Linked DNA regions of Homo sapiens: all the other regions are linked to region 1. Evidence: fine-mapped expression QTL. A gene starts in region 1. Each other region holds a variant in brackets. All regions are shown on one strand. Distances are between the middles of the regions.

Region 1 (4,172 bases):
CTGTCTCAAAAACAAACAAACAAACAAACAACAACAACAACAAAAACTGGGGAATGGGGCGAGGGTTAATCAATCTGACTTTTACTGTTTTACAAAGCAGAAAATATAAATTTCCACCCAGATCAGTCAGGTATTAATCTGAAATTAGAAGTAAAACTATCAGGACATTTCCTTTCTTCAACCTCTGAAACTCCCAGAAGCTTGCAGAATTCCCTCTAATAGTCACTTAACAAATAGAGTTATCTTCTTCACTAAAAATTCAGGTGTGTTTTTAAAATAAGGGGATATCCTGATGATTTGTCATTGGAGCACTAAATCTCTTTTGGTTTGGCGTTCCCAGTTCATGAATTGCTTCTTACTCAAATATACTCTTTAAAATAATAATAATAATAATAATAATAAAATAAGGGGATATCTAAACTAGCATACTGACACATGGAGGTGGGAAAAATATAATACTCTTTCACTTACCTAACACTTTACCTTCAAAGCATCTTACTGATAACTAACGCAGCTGTACTGCTTAATAATTTTGTCACTGCAACAAAGAAAGAGCTGATCTAATTAAAATACAACTGAACTTGAAGAAGCCCTATGTTTTTACCTTTTTTTCTCTAGGCAGTAATAATGAGCACTAGCAGCAAAAATCCTTCCTTTTGGAGTCCTAAGAAATTATTCTAAATTTTTACCTTTCATCATCAAGTCCATATCTATATCCTATCTTGGATCCAATACATTATGCAACTGATGTATTGAAATAGCAGCAGCCTCAGTTTCCAAGTCTCCCTGATGCTTCAGTCTGTGCCCTCTAGTATCTAGGGCAACATATTTGTCATGTGGAATATGTCCAATGCATTTAGCTGGTAAATTTAGAATAAATCGCAAGAACAATCGCCTGGGGCCCTCAAAAAGGCCACATACATCTACAGAATATTATTTAGGAAAGTATAACTTAAGGGTGAAAACAGCTGGTGAAACTGCTCTGTAGCTGAAAGCTGAGAAGCTTCTCCATTTTAGTACTCTCATTTAGATTTTAAGCATCTTTTTGGGGACTGTTAAAAAGGTAGTCTGTGGAAAGCACACGGTGCAACTGTGACTTTGCACATGTCACATATGTTTCAAGTTTAAAATGGGGTTATTATTTTTTTCTTATCTTCAGGTGCTAATGCATCCAAATGGGTGATAGATACGGAGAGAATCTATTTTTTGAAAGTTGGTTGAATTTAGAAATTACTATGTGAATCAAGTATTAATGTATTCAATATCCATTTGCACTCCTGAGTTTATTTAGATACTTTACGTAAAAGTGAAGGGGCAGGAATATAGGCAGGGTATTTAATGTGAAGCTCTCTCCCGTTAATAAAGATCAATTACCCCAAGATTTGCAAAAAAAAAAAAAGAGAGAGAAAAAGAAAGAAATGTGCGAGAAGTTTCCTAAAATTTAAGGTAGGGGGAACGGAGTTTGCAAACTCCTTTCACCCCGATGGGCATTAGCAGACACCTCCGGTTTTAGAAAAGCGTTACAAACAGTTCTTCCACGATGCTGCCCACCAAAGCCGTAATGTGCCCAGACCCCAGAGCTCCTAGAGCATTTCACTCAGGGTAATGCTGGCTTTGGGGCGGTCAAGGCAGGGGCGTGTCAGCTCAGGATGAAGAGGCAGGAAGCACAGACGGGCCGCGACTGGCTTCCTGACTGCGCCGCGCCTTGGGAAAGTCCCCGCCCTCCAAAGCTCTCGATTGGGATCACCTTGGGACTCGGCTTCCTTGTGAACCGTTTCCAGCGATTCAGCCCCATCCTTTTCTTTGAGAAGGACCTTCCCTGAGGCGCCAGGAGCATTTTCCAAGTTCGAGCCCGAACCTCGGCCAAAGCTGCAGCAACCGCCCTTCTGCCCGGGCTGCCTCCGGGTCACGCTGGGAATTGTAGTTCCTCCGCCCGCAAGGAAAGCAGGCATAGGACACCGTCGAACCACCACTCCCACGAGGCTCTGCGCAGGCCGCTCGCGTTGGCTCAGTTACCATAGCAACGGCAGAGGTCCCTCGCTCTTGCCGTCATCAAGGCTCGCTTGAATGTCGGCTTTGCTTTTTTTCTGGCGCCCAGTGATGACGCAGTACTCCCTGATTGGCTCTGCACTGGAGGCAGTGATTTTGGGGCAGAGAATTTTGCAACACGTGGTAGTGAACTGTGAGGAGTTTGAGGGGTCTGAAGACTGAAAGAGTCGAATGGTTTGTTGGCAGGTAAGTGCCCCTTTGCCCTGCTGGTGTGGGAGCTGCTAGAGATGGATGAGTCACGTCGCGTCCAGACGCTTCCTGGTTGTGTTGCAGTAACGGTGATTGTACTCCCGCCATGTCTCCTCTGCTTCCCTTTTCAGGGTGTCCTGGTGGATTGGTTTCTGTAAGTTCAGATTCTCATAAATCGTGTGAGCGTCGCCGACACCTCTGAGATAAAAGGGCCCCTTTCGACTAGCCTCTGCTGAAAGGTAGAGTTTTCAGGAAGTTTTTATTCCGAACTGCCCATGGGAGGGTGGGACCGTCTTCAATCTCTGAGCCAGGTGCCTAGGGAGGTCTGGGGCCATGGAGATGGCCCATGGAGCAAAGATAAATCCAGGCTTATTGGCTTAGCCGAGGTGTTTCCAGAGACAGCCCATTTAGGGGTGATAAATGGGCTTATAAAGCAGAGTAAAGATTTAGAACAGGAGTTTTGAATTCAACTACTTTGTGGCTATATGACCCTAGGCAACTTGTTTAATAACTCAGAGACCCTGTTTTCTCATGCAAAATGGGGACGATAATACCTGAATCACTGGAGTGTTGTAATGATTAAAAATAAATGTATGTGAAGCATTCTGCCAGGAAATGTAAACTAAAGTTGATTTGAAATTGGTGAAAATGAAGTTAGGGAAGCTATGCCCTCGGACTGTTGCAGCGATCCTAGGACCAGCTCTGTAACTGGTCTGTCTGAAAGGCGGTTGAATAAATTGTGCTCATACAAACTATGCAGTACCACGAAGTAGTTTTTTTCAAAAGGGTAAGTTAGCTTTATGTCTCTTCTTCAGGAAAGACGTCTAATGTTTATTCTTGAGAGAAAAGCAAATTGCAGAGAAGTGCATATATTATAGTATAATATGTTTCCATTTTTGTAAAAGCAAACCCTGACCAAAACACTCCCTCCCATATGCAAGTATGTTTAAATATTTGTATGAGAATGGAGAAAGATTGCAGAGACTGGGAGGATGGATTAGAGGCGGGAGGGAGAAAGGGAAAAGAAGAAGAACACTATAGCAAAATGGAAACTAAGATTATAATGTGCTTGTGTACCAGATGGAACTTCTAATAAGCTCCCAGCCTATTAGAGTACAGCGCTGAAAACTAGACTTCAATAATTAAAGTCCTTGCTCTGCCACTTACCAGCTGGGGATTTTATCAGCCTCAGTTTATCATACATAAAATGCAGATAATAATGGTATCTATATTATGCATTTGATCTGAGGATTAATGGAGTGAATATATAAAGAACAGTGCTTAATACATAGTAAATACCCGATAAATGTTAGTTGCTATTATTGTCTTTCTATATGTGAAATTAATTTAACTTTTATTGTGATTACTGACATTTGGAATTCTACCATCTTATTTTGTGTTTTCTATTTCTTTTTTTTGGTCTCTTTTCCTTTCTTGCCTTTTATTAGGTTAATTCATTTTTCTTTATCTTCCCACTTCCCTCTCCAGTGAGTTTGGAAATTATGCATTCTGTCATTAATCGTTTAACAGTTACTTCTGAATTTTTAACACACATACTCAACAAAGTTTAACGTCGTCGTTATCTCTTTCCCCCTACCAAATGGTGTAACGATTTCCGAATGCCTTGGAAAAATCTTCATTTACTGTTTTCTAGAATTGTAGCGTTCTTCATTTCTTTTTTTTGAGACGGCATCTTGCTTTGTTACCCAGGCTGGACTGCAGTGGCATGATTTTGGCTCACTGCAACCTCTGCCTCCTGGGTTCAAGTGATTCTCCTGTCTCAGCCTCCGGAGTAGCTGGTATTACAGGCATGTGCTGCTACACCTGGCTGATTTTTGTGTTTTTAGTAGAGACGGTTTCACCATGTTGGCCTGGCTGGTCTCGAACTCCTGACCTTAGGTGTTCCTCCCACTTCGGACTCCCAGAGTGCTGGG
Region 2 (4,172 bases), 85 kb before region 1:
GTCTATTTTTGCTTTGGTTGTCTGTGCTTTTGAGGTCTTACACAAAAAATCTTTGGCCAGACCAGTGGCCTGGAGCATTGTCTCAATGTTTTCTTCTAGTAGTCTCATAGTTTCTGGACTTAGATTTAAATCTGTAACCCATTTGGATTTGATTTTTGTGTATGGTGAGAGAAAGGGGTCTCATTTCATTCTTCTGCATATAGTTCTCCTGTTTTTCCAGCACCATTTATTAAAAGAGTGTCCTTTCCCCATTTTATGTTCTTGGCACTTTTGTCAAAGATGAGTTGGTTGTAAATGTGTGGATTTAAATCTGGGTTCTCTATTCTATTTCATTGGTCTATATGCCTGTTTTTATGCCAGTACCAAGCTGTTTTGGTTACTATAGCTTTGTAGTAAATTTTGAAGTCAGGTAGTGTGATACCTAGAGCTTTGTTCTTTTTGCTTAGTGTTGCTTTGGCTATTCAGGGTCTTCTGTGGTTTCATATAAATATTAGGAATTTTTTTTCTATTTCCGTGAAGAATGTTGTTGGTATTTTGATAGAGATTGCATTGAATCTGTAAATTGCTTTGGGTAGTATTGCCATTTTAACTATAAGAAGTCTTCCAGTGCAGGAGCATGGCATATCTTTCTATATGTTTGTGTCCTCTTCAATTTCTTTCCTCAGTGTTTTATAGTTCTCAGTATATAGATCTTTCACTTCCTTGGTTAAAGTGGTTCCCAGGTATTTTATTTTCTTTGTAGCTAGTTAAGGTGGGATTGTTTTCTTCTTTTTCAGATTGTTCACTGTTGGTGTATATATTAATAAATGCTGCTGATTTTTGAATGTTGATTTTGTATGCTGCAACTTTACTGAATTTGTTTGTCAGATCTAACAGTTTTTTTTGGTGGAGTCTTTAGGTTTTTCTAAGTATAAGAGCATGTCATCCGTAAACAAGGCTAATTTAGCTTCTTCCTTTTCAATTTGGATACATTTTTTTTAAAGACAGGGTTTCTCTGTCACCCAGGCTGGTCTTGAACCCTTGGCCTCAAGTGATCCTTCCATAGTGGCCTCCCAAAGCCCTGGGATTACAGCCATGAGCCATCACATCTGGCCTGGATGCCCTTATTTTTTTCTCTTGTCTAACTGCTCTGGCAAGGACTTGCAGTATTATATTGAATAAAAGTGCTGAAAGTGGGCATTTTGGTCCTGGCCAGGATGTTGATTTTTCTTTTTTATTATACTTTAAGTTTTAGGGTACATGTGCACAACATGCAGGTTTGTTACATATGTATACATGTGTCATGTTGGTGTGCTGCACCCATTAACTCATCATTTAACATTAGGTATATCTCCTAATGCTATCCCTCCCCGTCCCCCCACCCCACAGCAGACCCCGGTGTGTGATGTTCCCCTTCCTGTGTCCATGTGTTCTCATTGTCCAATTCCCACCTATGAGTGAGAACATGCGGTGTTTGGGTTTTTGTCCTTGCGATAGTTTGCTGAGAATGACGGTTTCCAGCTTCATCCATGTCCCTACAAAGGACATGAACTCATCATTTTTTATGGCTGCTTAGTATTCCATGGTGTATATGTGCCACATTTTCTTAATCCAGTCTATCATTGTTGGACATTTGGGTTGGTTCCAAGTCTTTGCTATTGTGAATAGTGCCGCAATAAACATGTGTGCATGTGTCTTTATAGCAGCATGATTTATAATCCTTTGGGTATATACCCAGTAACGGGATGGGTGGGTCAAATGGTATTTCTAGTTCTAGATCCCTGAGGAATCACCACACTGATTTCCACAATGATTGAACTAGTTTACAGTCCCACCAACAGTGTAAAAGTGTTCCTATTTCTCCACATCCTCTCCAGCACCTGTTGTTTCCTGACTTTTTAATGATCGCCATTCTAACTGGTGTGAGATGGTATCTCATTGTGGTTTTGATTTGCATTTCTCTGATGGCCAGTGATGATGAGCATTTTTTCTTGTGTCTTTTGGCTGCATAAATGTCTTCTTTTGAGAAGTGTCTGTTCATACAGATGTTGAATTTTATTGAATGCCTTTTTGGACATCTCTTGAAATAATTATATGGCTTTTGTTCTTGGTTCTGTTAATGTGATGTATCATGTTTATTGATTTGCATAAGTTGAACCATCCTTGGATCCCTGGGATAAATCCCACTTGATCATGGTGAATGTTCTTTTCAACGTGTTATTGAATTTGGTTTGC[C/T]GGTATTTGGTTGAAGATTTTGCATTTGTGTTCATCAGGGATATGTAGTTTTCTTTTTTCTTATCATGTCCTTGTTTGGTTTTGGTATCAGGCTAATGCTGGCCTGATAGAATAAGTATGGAAGTATTCCCTCCTCTTCAGTTTTTTTTTGAAGAAATTGAGTAGAATTTGTATTAGTTCTTCTTTAAAAGTTTGGTACAATTTAGCAGTTTGAAGCCATTAGGACCTGGGCTTTTCTTTTAGGTGAGACTTTTTAATTACAGCTTCAATCTCATTACTTATTAGTGGTTTGTTGAGGTTTTCTGTTTCTTCATCATTCAATCTTGGTAGGTTTTATCTGTCTAGAAATTTATCCATTTCTTCTATGTTTTCCAGTTTATTGATATATAGGTGTTCATAATAGTCTCTAGTGATTCTTTGTATTTTTGATGTCTCAGTTGTTATGTCTCCTTTTTCATTTCTGATTTTGAGTCAGAAAAAGTCTCAATTCATTTATTTCTGCTTAGATTTATATTATTTCCTTTCTTCTAATAATTTGGGGTTTGGTTTGTTCTTGCTTTTCTATATTTCCTTGAGGAGCATAGTTGACTTATTTTTTGAAGTCTGTCAACTTTTTTGATGTGTTTATTGCTATAAACTTCTCTCTTAAAAGAAGTTACTGCTTTTACTATAACCTATAGATTTTGATCTATGATATTTCCATTTTCATTGGTTTCAAGAAATTTTTAAATTTTTTCTTAATTTCTTCATTGACCCATTGGTTGTTCAGGAGCATGTTGTTTAATTTCCTTCTATCTGTGTAGCTTCTGAAGTTCCTCTTACTGATTCCTAATTTTATTCTATTGTGGTCAGAATAGATACTTGATACAATTTCTGTTTTTTGAATTTGTTGAGAGTTGTTTTGTGGCCTAAGATATGGTCTTATTATGGAGGATGTTCCATGTGCTGATAAAAAGAATGTGTATTCTTCAACAGCTGGATAAAATATTCTTTAAATGTCAGACCTATTTGGCCTGGTTTCTGGTTTAAGTTTGATGTTTCCTTGCTGATTTTCTTCTGGATAATTTGTCCACTACTGAGAGTGGCGTGTTGAAGTCCCCTATGATTGTATTGCAGTTATCTCTCCCTTTATTGTTTGCTTTATATACTTGGGTGCTTGATGTTGAGTGCATAGATATTTATAATTGTTATATCCTCTTGCTGAATTGACCTCTTTATCATTATATAATGACCTTTCTTTATTTCTCTTTATAGTCTTTGACTTGTAGTCAGTTTTATCTGATATAAGTATAGCTATTCCTGCTGTGTTTTTGGTTTCTACTTGCTTGGAATGTCTTTTTCTATCTCTTTCAGTCTATGTATGTCTTTACAGGTGAAGTAGGTGTCTTATAGGCAGCATACAGTTGGATCTTGTTTCTTTATCCATCAGCCACTCTATGTCTTTTAATTGGAGAACTGAGTCCATTTATATTCAGTTATTGATAAGTAAGGACTTACTATGGCAATTTTTTCTTTCCTTGTTTGCTGGTTGTTTTGTAACTCCTGTCTTCCTTTCTTACTGTTTTCCCTTGTGGCAAAACGATTTTCTCAGGTAGTATGTTTTAATTTCTTGCCTTTTCTTTTTAGAAATCCCCCAACATTTTGACTTTTTCTTGTTTTAGTTTCCATGTTTTATATTACCTCTTAGCAGGCTGCTGTAGCTATTACTGTTTTTGCTAGATGTGTCTTTCTGGCTTCATACTAGAGTTATGAGTTGATTGCACACCACAATTACAGTATTAGAGTATTCTGGGTTTGTTCATGTACTTAATTTTATCAGTAGGTTTTCTACTGTCAACTGTTTTCTTTTTGTGTTAGTGTTTTTTTCTTTCAGATTGAAGAACTCCCTTTAACATTTCTTGTAAGATGGGTCTGGTGGTGGTGAATTCTCTCAGCATTTGTTTTTCTGAGAAAAACTT
Region 3 (4,172 bases), 24 kb before region 1:
AGGACCTTTGTAAGTCTATCCCTACATTTACCAAGCTCCCTCAGTATCTTCCTAACATTCTCTTTTCTCTTGCTAAATCCATTCATTCACGTATTTATTCAATTAACTTTCTCTGAATTTCAGCAATGCCTAAGGCCCTGGGGTGGGTGTTGTAGGATATGTAAAATATACATATTTATCTTTTCTCATCTAACCCTCTCATTTACAAATCTGCCCAGTCAGTCCTTTTACCTGAAATGTTATAATCCCAAAATTCATACTTTTATCAATCCCACTTTATTGAAGAAAACTGCTTAAGTAACCTGAAGAGGATATTCACTTTTATATTAAAAATCAGCAAGTAATTTTTACAAAAAGATAAAGTGAAAGAAAGGAAGAAAAGGTAAAATAAAATATAGACCATTAAAAAGAAAAGCACAGGTTTAAGTGTATCATTGCTTTAGGATCAGAGCTACTAAAAGGCAAGTAACCAGTTCTTGTATCTTCTGAATAATCCAGAACACAATGGTCCTTACAACTGTCAAAGTGGAAGCCAAGATTTCAAAAACTGCCAGAGAGCTACCTTAGTTTAAGGTTAATAATAGTTAAATGCTATTCTGAAGAGGTAATTTAGGAAGAAGTCCACAATTTACCCCCCTCACCCCAGTAATTTCCCAGGATCCCACCAGAGTATACAAAGAATAGCCTCAGAACAGGGGATTTGTGTACTGCCCTGCATACCAGGTCAGCTGGGCACAAAGAACAAATGGCGTGGGCAGTTTTGGTATTTGTGATGAGGTTCAACTGGACTTAGTTTTTATTTTATCCCATCTCTGATGGAGCTCTTTGTCATTTATACTACAGAATGCTGAGTAAAGAGACATTGCAATTCCCACCTGTTGATTTTCTTTGAAAGTTTGGATTAATACTTCTTTCAATTTCCTTTTTCTTTCCTTCACCATTTTTTCCTCATCTGGAAGAATGTGAGTACTTTGAAACATGACTTTTTCTGAACTATTTTGAGAATTCTCTTCTTGCCTTTTCTTCTCTCTATTAATAACAATTTAAAAATACATGTATATTTACAATAGATTTAAAAATGAGCAATTACAACCTACTGTAGCAGAATAATCACTGAATTCTCCTTCGGAATACACATATTTTTAGATCTGGCTCTAAAACTACATAGTAGGGTAATTTTTTTGGAGACTTATTTTATTCCTTTATAAAATACAGATTAAATGAAATAAAATTGTTATAAAGTACTTTGAAAAGTAGAAAGTCTTATAGATACTTTAGTATTTTTATTGAGTTGCACACTGAGCCATACTTTGATCAAAATTTGAGAGTTAACAACTACAAGATAGTCTCTAATATAGACATAAATTATCTCCCATAGAACGAGAAAAAAAGGATTCTCAAGAAAGGAATGAGATTCTTACTAAAAGGCCTCTTATAAGGTTACTAGAAAGAGGAATAACAAAAGAATCAGGTGTTATTGAATAAGGAGGGAATGGAATCTAGAATAATTTTAAAATAGCTGAAAAGAGAAAAAAATAGAACTTAAAAAGGAAAAGGACTTTAGGCAAGTAACCAGAATTATTTTAGTAACTTTGTTGCTCATCTTTCTGAGCATCCTCTTTTTTGCCCACCTATCTATTCTTCCTCATCCAGGCCATCCCTCTTTTGCTCACCAATTCAAACAAGCTCATAGCTATGGCCTTCCTACTGTAGTGCATTTAACTGCACAGGTATATGTATGTGTATAAAGTATATATTATTAATGATGTGGTAAACATAGCACCTAGTCAGGAATCAGAACTCATGAGCTCTGGCCACAAACCAGCTAGTCACCTGATCTTTCTTGAACTTTTAGTTCACAGTTGTGGAAACTAAAATGGAGAAAGATGCCAGAGTACCCTACCCCTTCTCTCACTCATTCTCATATATGTTACAGAGGGTACACAGTGTTATGTTGTATTATTGGTAATGTTAACCTTCATCACTTGCTTAAGGTGGCTTCTCCAGTATAGAGTTATTATTTTTCCCTTTGAAATTAATAAGCATCTTGAAAGAGATAACTTTAAAACTAGGCAATGAGGCAGATTTAAGATAGCTTACAAATAGGTTCAAAAGGCCTATCAACAATAAAAATGTTATTGACTTTTTCCAAACTATGAATGCCATAACAATGTTATATTACATGGTTATAGACAGGTGATAGTGATTGTCAAAGAAATACAGTTCTAATACCATGAAACTGATTTTTTAAAATAACATTAGAATATATATCTATTTTAAAAGAAATATATGCTCATTGTGAAAAACTGGAGAAGTATAAAAGTCATCCATATTTCTTTTTTTTTTTTTTATTTTCTGTTTGCGATGGAGTCTCACTCA[C/T]TCTGTCACTCAGGCTGGAGTGCAGTGGCATGATCTCGGCTCACTGCAACCTCTGCCTCCTGGGTTCAGGCGATTCTCCTGCCTCAGCCTCCCGAGTAGCTGGGGTTACAGGTGTGTGCCACCACGCCCATAAAAGCCATCCATATTTCTACCCAGAAAAAAAGTCAGTCCTGTTTCATTGTACAGCCATGACTTAGCAATTTCTCCAATATTTACGAAAGTCTGTTATTATAAATAATGTTGTTTAAATTATCTTTCTGCACAAATCTTTGTCTGGATTTCTGATAATTTTCTTAGGGCAGTTTTCCTAAGGCTGTAATTCCTAGGTCAAGGGATAATACTATTTTACGGCTCTTGTTGTTTACTGCCAAATTGCTTTCTGGAAAGTTTAAATCAGTTCATCCACCCAGAAGTAGAACATATTACCTATCTCACTGTAACCATGGATAAGATCTTAACTTTTAAAATAAATGACTGGTCAGTGAACATTTGTTGAGTGCCCACTGTGAGCAGAGCATCCTACTACCATTAAACGTTACTTGTTTTCACAATTTATTTTAGGTCAACCTAGTTTTTCCAGGGCTTGGGAGCAATATGAAAAGCAAGGCTGACCTTAGAAAGAACTCACTAAAACACCAGTGATTGCTTTCTGAAAGGAATGGCATCTGGAGGAAGCCTCAGCCTGGCACTTGAAGAAGTAAAGCACATGTCCACTGCTGAGCTGTTTTAAACTGGGTAGAATAAGAGCAATCAAGAGCACAGGGGGGAAAGCTGTGTAGGCTGATGGGGGTGGAAGGGATTATCTAATAGGTCTTTGTGGCCTCTCAGTTCGAGTAGTCAGACACTTCAGTCATGCTGTTCCAAGGCTTTTGCAGTTCCTGCATCAGTGCTGTTTCTCAGAATAAATACATTAGTTATTTCACTTATGAAGCTCATTTTCTGCATGAGGATGGATAATAGTACTACATCCTGTGAGGACTATTTTCATCTTCCTCTTATGTCAGATATTCTTTTTCTTTATCAGTGGTAGTAAGGCAGTGGTGACTTTCCATATGTTTATCAGAAAATAAGACACACAATTCACAACAGGATAAGACACAATTACTGAACATGTTCAACCTTAAAAATATTATCTAACCAAAGAAATGCAAACTAATCAATGTAATACCTATTAAAAGTGTAAAAATATTGAAAATGATGATACTCCCTAAGGCTGAGAAGAGTATGATAAACTGGCCTGCTGCTGATGATACAGTAAACAAGTATCATCAGCAAAACAACCCATTTTGAAAGCAATTTGGCAATGTTTCAAGAGTCAGAAAAAGACCTGTGTCATTTAACTCAGAAATTATGCTAAGAATTTATTCTAAGAATATAATACAAAAGAGTGAAAAAACTCTATGCTTAAAGATGCTCATTGCAATCTTATAATGGTGAAAAATCCAAAATAGCTGAAACATTTACCAGTATGGGGAGGTGGTCATTACATAAATTATGGTATAGGAACTCAATGGAGTATTATACACATCCCAGGACTCCAGGCAATGTGTTAATTACAACAAGCAGAATTACAAATTAAATGTACTTTATGGTTGTATAATTAAGTATGGAAAGGGACCACGTCAGGAGGAACATGGAAATATGAAATTAGTTAATTTGTTAAGATGGTGGAATAGTGAGTGATTTCTCTTCTATGTTTTGTTATTGAATGTTTGTGCACTTCAAAAACTTCAGAGCATTTCTAAAATGACTGCTTAAACAGAGAAACCCCACAGTGCTTATCACACTGGCTT
Region 4 (4,162 bases), 55 kb before region 1:
TCTTAGTATTAACATTGTCCTGTAATTAGAGTAAATGGAAAACTACAACCTAATCCAGGCAGGACTATGAATGTTGCTGTGACTTTAGGAATGAAGGTTTGGGTCACCTGTTGGGTAGAGAATCACAAGCAGCTGAGGTGCTTGCTGAAGGCAAGGGGAATATGGAGGGGTAGTGGAAGAAGGTATTTATAAATACCAGTTACGACCATGTAACCAGTTGTAGAAACAAAAACTGTGTCATGAGTATTTTCTCCTTATTTTGCTATGAATACATTTGTGCATTTTCTTTCCTCTTATTCTTTTATACTGTAACTTTCTATCACAGTATTTAAGTTACTAATATTATATCATTTATGCTATTTAAGTTATTTAAGTATTTAAGTTATGGGATATCATGGAGAAGAGTAAACATCACACAAGGACTTTACCTCCTCTTCTGAGGAATGGTTTAGTATGTTTTTAGTTGTATGCTGGATAGTTGTATCATGTTAGGTGGAATTATGATCGTGCTATTGTCTTTATTTGCAGATTAACTACGGTTTAAGGAGATGTGCATGGGTGCCATGTTGACAAGGGGTGGACTTGTGATGGCTAATTTTATGTGTCAACTTGACTATACCATGGGGTGCTAGATTAAACATTATTTTTGGATGTGTCTTTAAGGATGTCTCTCGATAAGATTAGCATTTGAGTTGGTGGCCTTAGTAAAGTAGATTGCCCTCACTAATGTTGGTGGGCATCATCCAATCTGCTGAGAGCCTGAATAGAACTTTCAAAAAGGAGGAGGAAGGAAGAATTTGCCCCTTTTTGCTTCCTGCCTCCCATCTGGAGCTGGGATATTGGTCTTCTCTTGCTCTTTGACTGAGATTTATGCCATCAACTCCCCTGATTCTGAGCCTTCAGACTTGAACTGGAATTACACCACTGGGTTTCTTGGGTCTCCAGATGGCAGATGGCAGATCATGAGACTTCTCAGCTTCCATAATTGCGTGAGCCAATTTCTCAAAATAAGTCTCCCTCTGTCTATATGTCCTACTGGTTCTCTTTTTCTGGAGAATCCTGACTAATACAATTCTCCATTCAAATTTCCTTTTCATGAAAATACTTCTAATTTCTCCAAATTCTTCATGAAACATACCTTATATGACTTTCTTGATCTCTCTCTCTCTCTTTTTTTTTCTTAGAGATGGTCTTACTTTGCTGCCCGGGTTGGAGCTCAGTGGCACAATGACAGCTCACTGCTGCCTCGAACTCCTGGGCTCAAGGATTCCTCCTGCCTTAGCCTCCCAAGTAGCTGGTGATTATAGGCAGGTGTCACTGCGCCCAGATGATTAAAATTTTTTTTTTATCGAGGCAGGGTCTTAACATCTTGCCCAGGCTAGTCTCAAACTCCTGGGCTCAAGCAATCCTCCCACCTCAGCCTCCCAAAAGTTCTGGGATTACAGGTGTGAGCCACAATGTCTGGCCCCTTGATCTCTTTTCGTCTATGTAGCACATGATGTCAAATACTCTACTACAGTGTCTCTGACACGTTTGTATTTTTAGGCCTTATCTTCCCAAGCAGAATTTAATAACCTTAGAGTAAGAGCTTTTTCTCTTATTTCTTCTGTGTGTATTATTATTTCTTTGTGTATTATCACTTCTTCTTCCATTTGTTCATTCATTTATTCACTCATTAAACACATATCTGCTGGGTGCCAATACAATAGTGAACAACATCAGACTGTTCCCTTAACCCTTATGGAGATCACAGTTTAGTTGGGGATGTAGAAATGAATAAAACAGCCATAAAACAAATGCACAATGATAACTGTCAATAATGTTCTGAAGGGAAGATACTTGATGAGAGTCCACAAAGGGGGACCCAACCTAATTCTGAGTGGAGAGGAGGGTGGGCAGGGCAGGAAAGGCTAATCTGGACAAAGTTCTGTTTTAGCTGAAATCTGAAGAATGAGTAGCTTTTCACTAAGTAAGATAGAGAAAAGAAGTGAGGGTGAGAGAAGAGTATTCCAGATAGAAGTTCTGGGTTAAAGAAGGTGGATAGGGCCACAGTATCACACACAGCAAACCTCAAGATACAGGGACTGACCAAATAGACAATACTAACCATTTTCTTCAGTCTCTTCTCTTCTCGTTTTCTTTCAAGCTGTGCCTCCTTTTCTTCTGCCTCCCTTTTCTGACGTTCCTCCTCTTGGGCCTTTAACTGGGCCTGATTGAGATTAGAACCCAGAAATATCAGAACCCTCAATTTGAACAGAAATGTGATCTTTTATGTTTAGGATAGTCAAGCGTCTACCAAAGTGCCTGTCCTATCTCTGGAAGAAGTCTGCATTTTGTGATAAAAGTAGAAAACTCAATCAACCTGTCATCAGTTACGTAACTTAAAAGTTTCTCCAAAAGAATCCTTTTCTACTTGGGAAGGTAAGACTGATCATAAATAAGATCACCAATCTTTCATTAAAAAATGATTACTTTTT[A/C]GTTCTTACTGTCATCTGTGAAAAACTAACTCCAAGTTAGAAACAGTTTAGGGGGAAAAAGGTTTTCTTTCATTTCACCAGAAAACCCCCAATTGTTGGAACTGTTTATTTTTTCTTGGTAGTTACAAAATTTACTTTGGATAGTCTAGGTCAAAACTTTGGAAAATAAGAACTATCCCTCTTTGCAAATTCAGTAGGTCAGACATCTACCTATAATACACTAATCTTGGTTATGTGTAAATCTTCTAATCTGCTGACTCTCATCAACTTTCATAACATTTTCTTCCTGCTGTGTTAATGATGTTGATGTTTCTGTCCCCCTTATTTTCCTAAAATTGTCACGGAATTCAGGCCACTAGGCCAAAAAACCATTTCCAAAGTTGATGTAACTCTATTGTCTCAGGAGTTCTGAAAAAGCAAGGTTTCATTTTTTAAGAAAGACCTGGACAAATCCTTCTTTTTTGACTCAGTTTGCATTTTGAATCTATTACCAATTTTTCTTCTTCTTGTTTTTTCTTCTTCTCTGCCAAGATCCGCCTACATTCAGCTCGTTGAATTGCTCTCTCTTCCATAGCTAGAAAATAGTAACAGAGTTCTAATATTTTTTATATTGAAAAAATATGAGGAATACTGCAAGAGAAATGTCTCCATTTCATAGTAAAATTTAGTGTTATTATTAGGGTTTTCTTGTAAGTTGAATGTTCACAATCTCAGAAAATATATAGAGATAAACAGAACTTATATACTCTACAGGTTAAAGACCTATTATCCCATCCTCAGCAATGAGGAACAATTTATAAATTAATTATTTTGTTTACATTTTTATTAAAATAATTGTTTACTGATTTATAATGTGCCTTGATGATACTTTTAGTATATGAAACCCAGAAACCAGAATTCTAATTTGATTATATGTTTGATGAATGCAGAAAACTTTAATTACATCTAACAAGTACTTTGAGAGTAGAATCGTTCCTCAAATCCTATTGAATCTGCTAATTTTTCTTAAGTCACTGTACATATGTCTGTATATATAAGAATAACAACAAACAAACTAAAGTTTGGGGTCACGATGAATATATTTGAATCTAGTTTTAAGGCCTGGATATACAGATGGGCAGGAAATGGAATTGTACCAGGCATTTGGAGAACTGGCATCTGAATGAATTTGAGTGTCAGACTCCTGTTCTTGACAGGCTATTAAATATCGATCCAAAAGAAACAAATGTGCAAGATGGTCTGATAATATGACTCTATAATCAGTTGGGGCTTTCATAGGAAGAGGGGCATGGATGGGAGGAGTATCAAGTTCTGCTCACCTAAGCCAGCCAATAGTTACTTTCAGTTCCTTGTGCCATATTTTAGAGAAAAGAATTTAAGTCCAAGTTTTAAGAATTAATAAACAAAAAACTCACCAGGCTATTTCTTACAGTTATTAAGTGTCTGCTTTGCTGAAAAAGAATGGTAGTGCCACAGATGGCGAGAGTGAAATTGTCTCTAAGAAGGCAGAAATAGACTAGGGGATTAAAGTAAGAGACCCCTAAGAAGCAGAGTCTCTGGTAATATGCCCTTTGCCCATCTTTTCTAGATCTAATCATCAAAAGACTACTTGAAAGTAGACTGGGCTTCTAAAATAGCTAACTCCTTGACCAAACAATAATTTTAAAAAAATAATCATACTTAAC

Evidence for each region. PIP is the estimated chance that this variant, and not a neighbour inherited with it, causes the effect. A credible set is the group of variants that fine-mapping cannot tell apart.
Region 2: its variant is the best candidate, but not a certain one, in a credible set for the expression of CCDC191 in whole blood (INTERVAL, PIP 0.63).
Region 3: its variant is the best candidate, but not a certain one, in a credible set for the expression of CCDC191 in nasal epithelium (TOPMed, PIP 0.50).
Region 4: its variant is the best candidate, but not a certain one, in a credible set for the expression of CCDC191 in whole blood (INTERVAL, PIP 0.64).

What each region holds. Positions count from the first base shown.
Region 1 is chr3:114,054,630-114,058,801 of GRCh38, forward strand. It overlaps CCDC191 (coiled-coil domain containing 191), which reads right to left and starts at 1,897. Exons shown (of 17, transcript NM_020817.2): 1 at 1,748-1,897. The coding sequence starts at 1,837. QTRT2 (queuine tRNA-ribosyltransferase accessory subunit 2) reads left to right here and starts at 2,108. Exons shown (of 10, transcript NM_024638.4): 1 at 2,108-2,235; 2 at 2,370-2,477. RefSeq lists enhancers at 1,639-2,048, 4,157-4,172.
Region 2 is chr3:113,969,366-113,973,537 of GRCh38, forward strand. The region is part of intron 16 of CCDC191 (coiled-coil domain containing 191); the gene reads right to left. It also overlaps a transcript of ZDHHC23 not described here. Among named protein-coding and RNA genes, the nearest start is that of ZDHHC23, 23 kb to the left of the region's middle. The variant C/T (reference allele first, on the strand shown) is at 2,215.
Region 3 is chr3:114,030,751-114,034,922 of GRCh38, forward strand. It overlaps CCDC191 (coiled-coil domain containing 191), which reads right to left. Exons shown (of 17, transcript NM_020817.2): 7 at 876-1,029. Among named protein-coding and RNA genes, the nearest start is that of CCDC191, 24 kb to the right of the region's middle. The variant C/T (reference allele first, on the strand shown) is at 2,380.
Region 4 is chr3:113,999,488-114,003,649 of GRCh38, forward strand. It overlaps CCDC191 (coiled-coil domain containing 191), which reads right to left. Exons shown (of 17, transcript NM_020817.2): 12 at 2,969-3,051; 13 at 2,108-2,209. It overlaps LOC105374048 (a long non-coding RNA gene), which reads left to right and starts at 2,202. Exons shown (of 3, transcript XR_924347.4): 1 at 2,202-2,421. The variant A/C (reference allele first, on the strand shown) is at 2,478.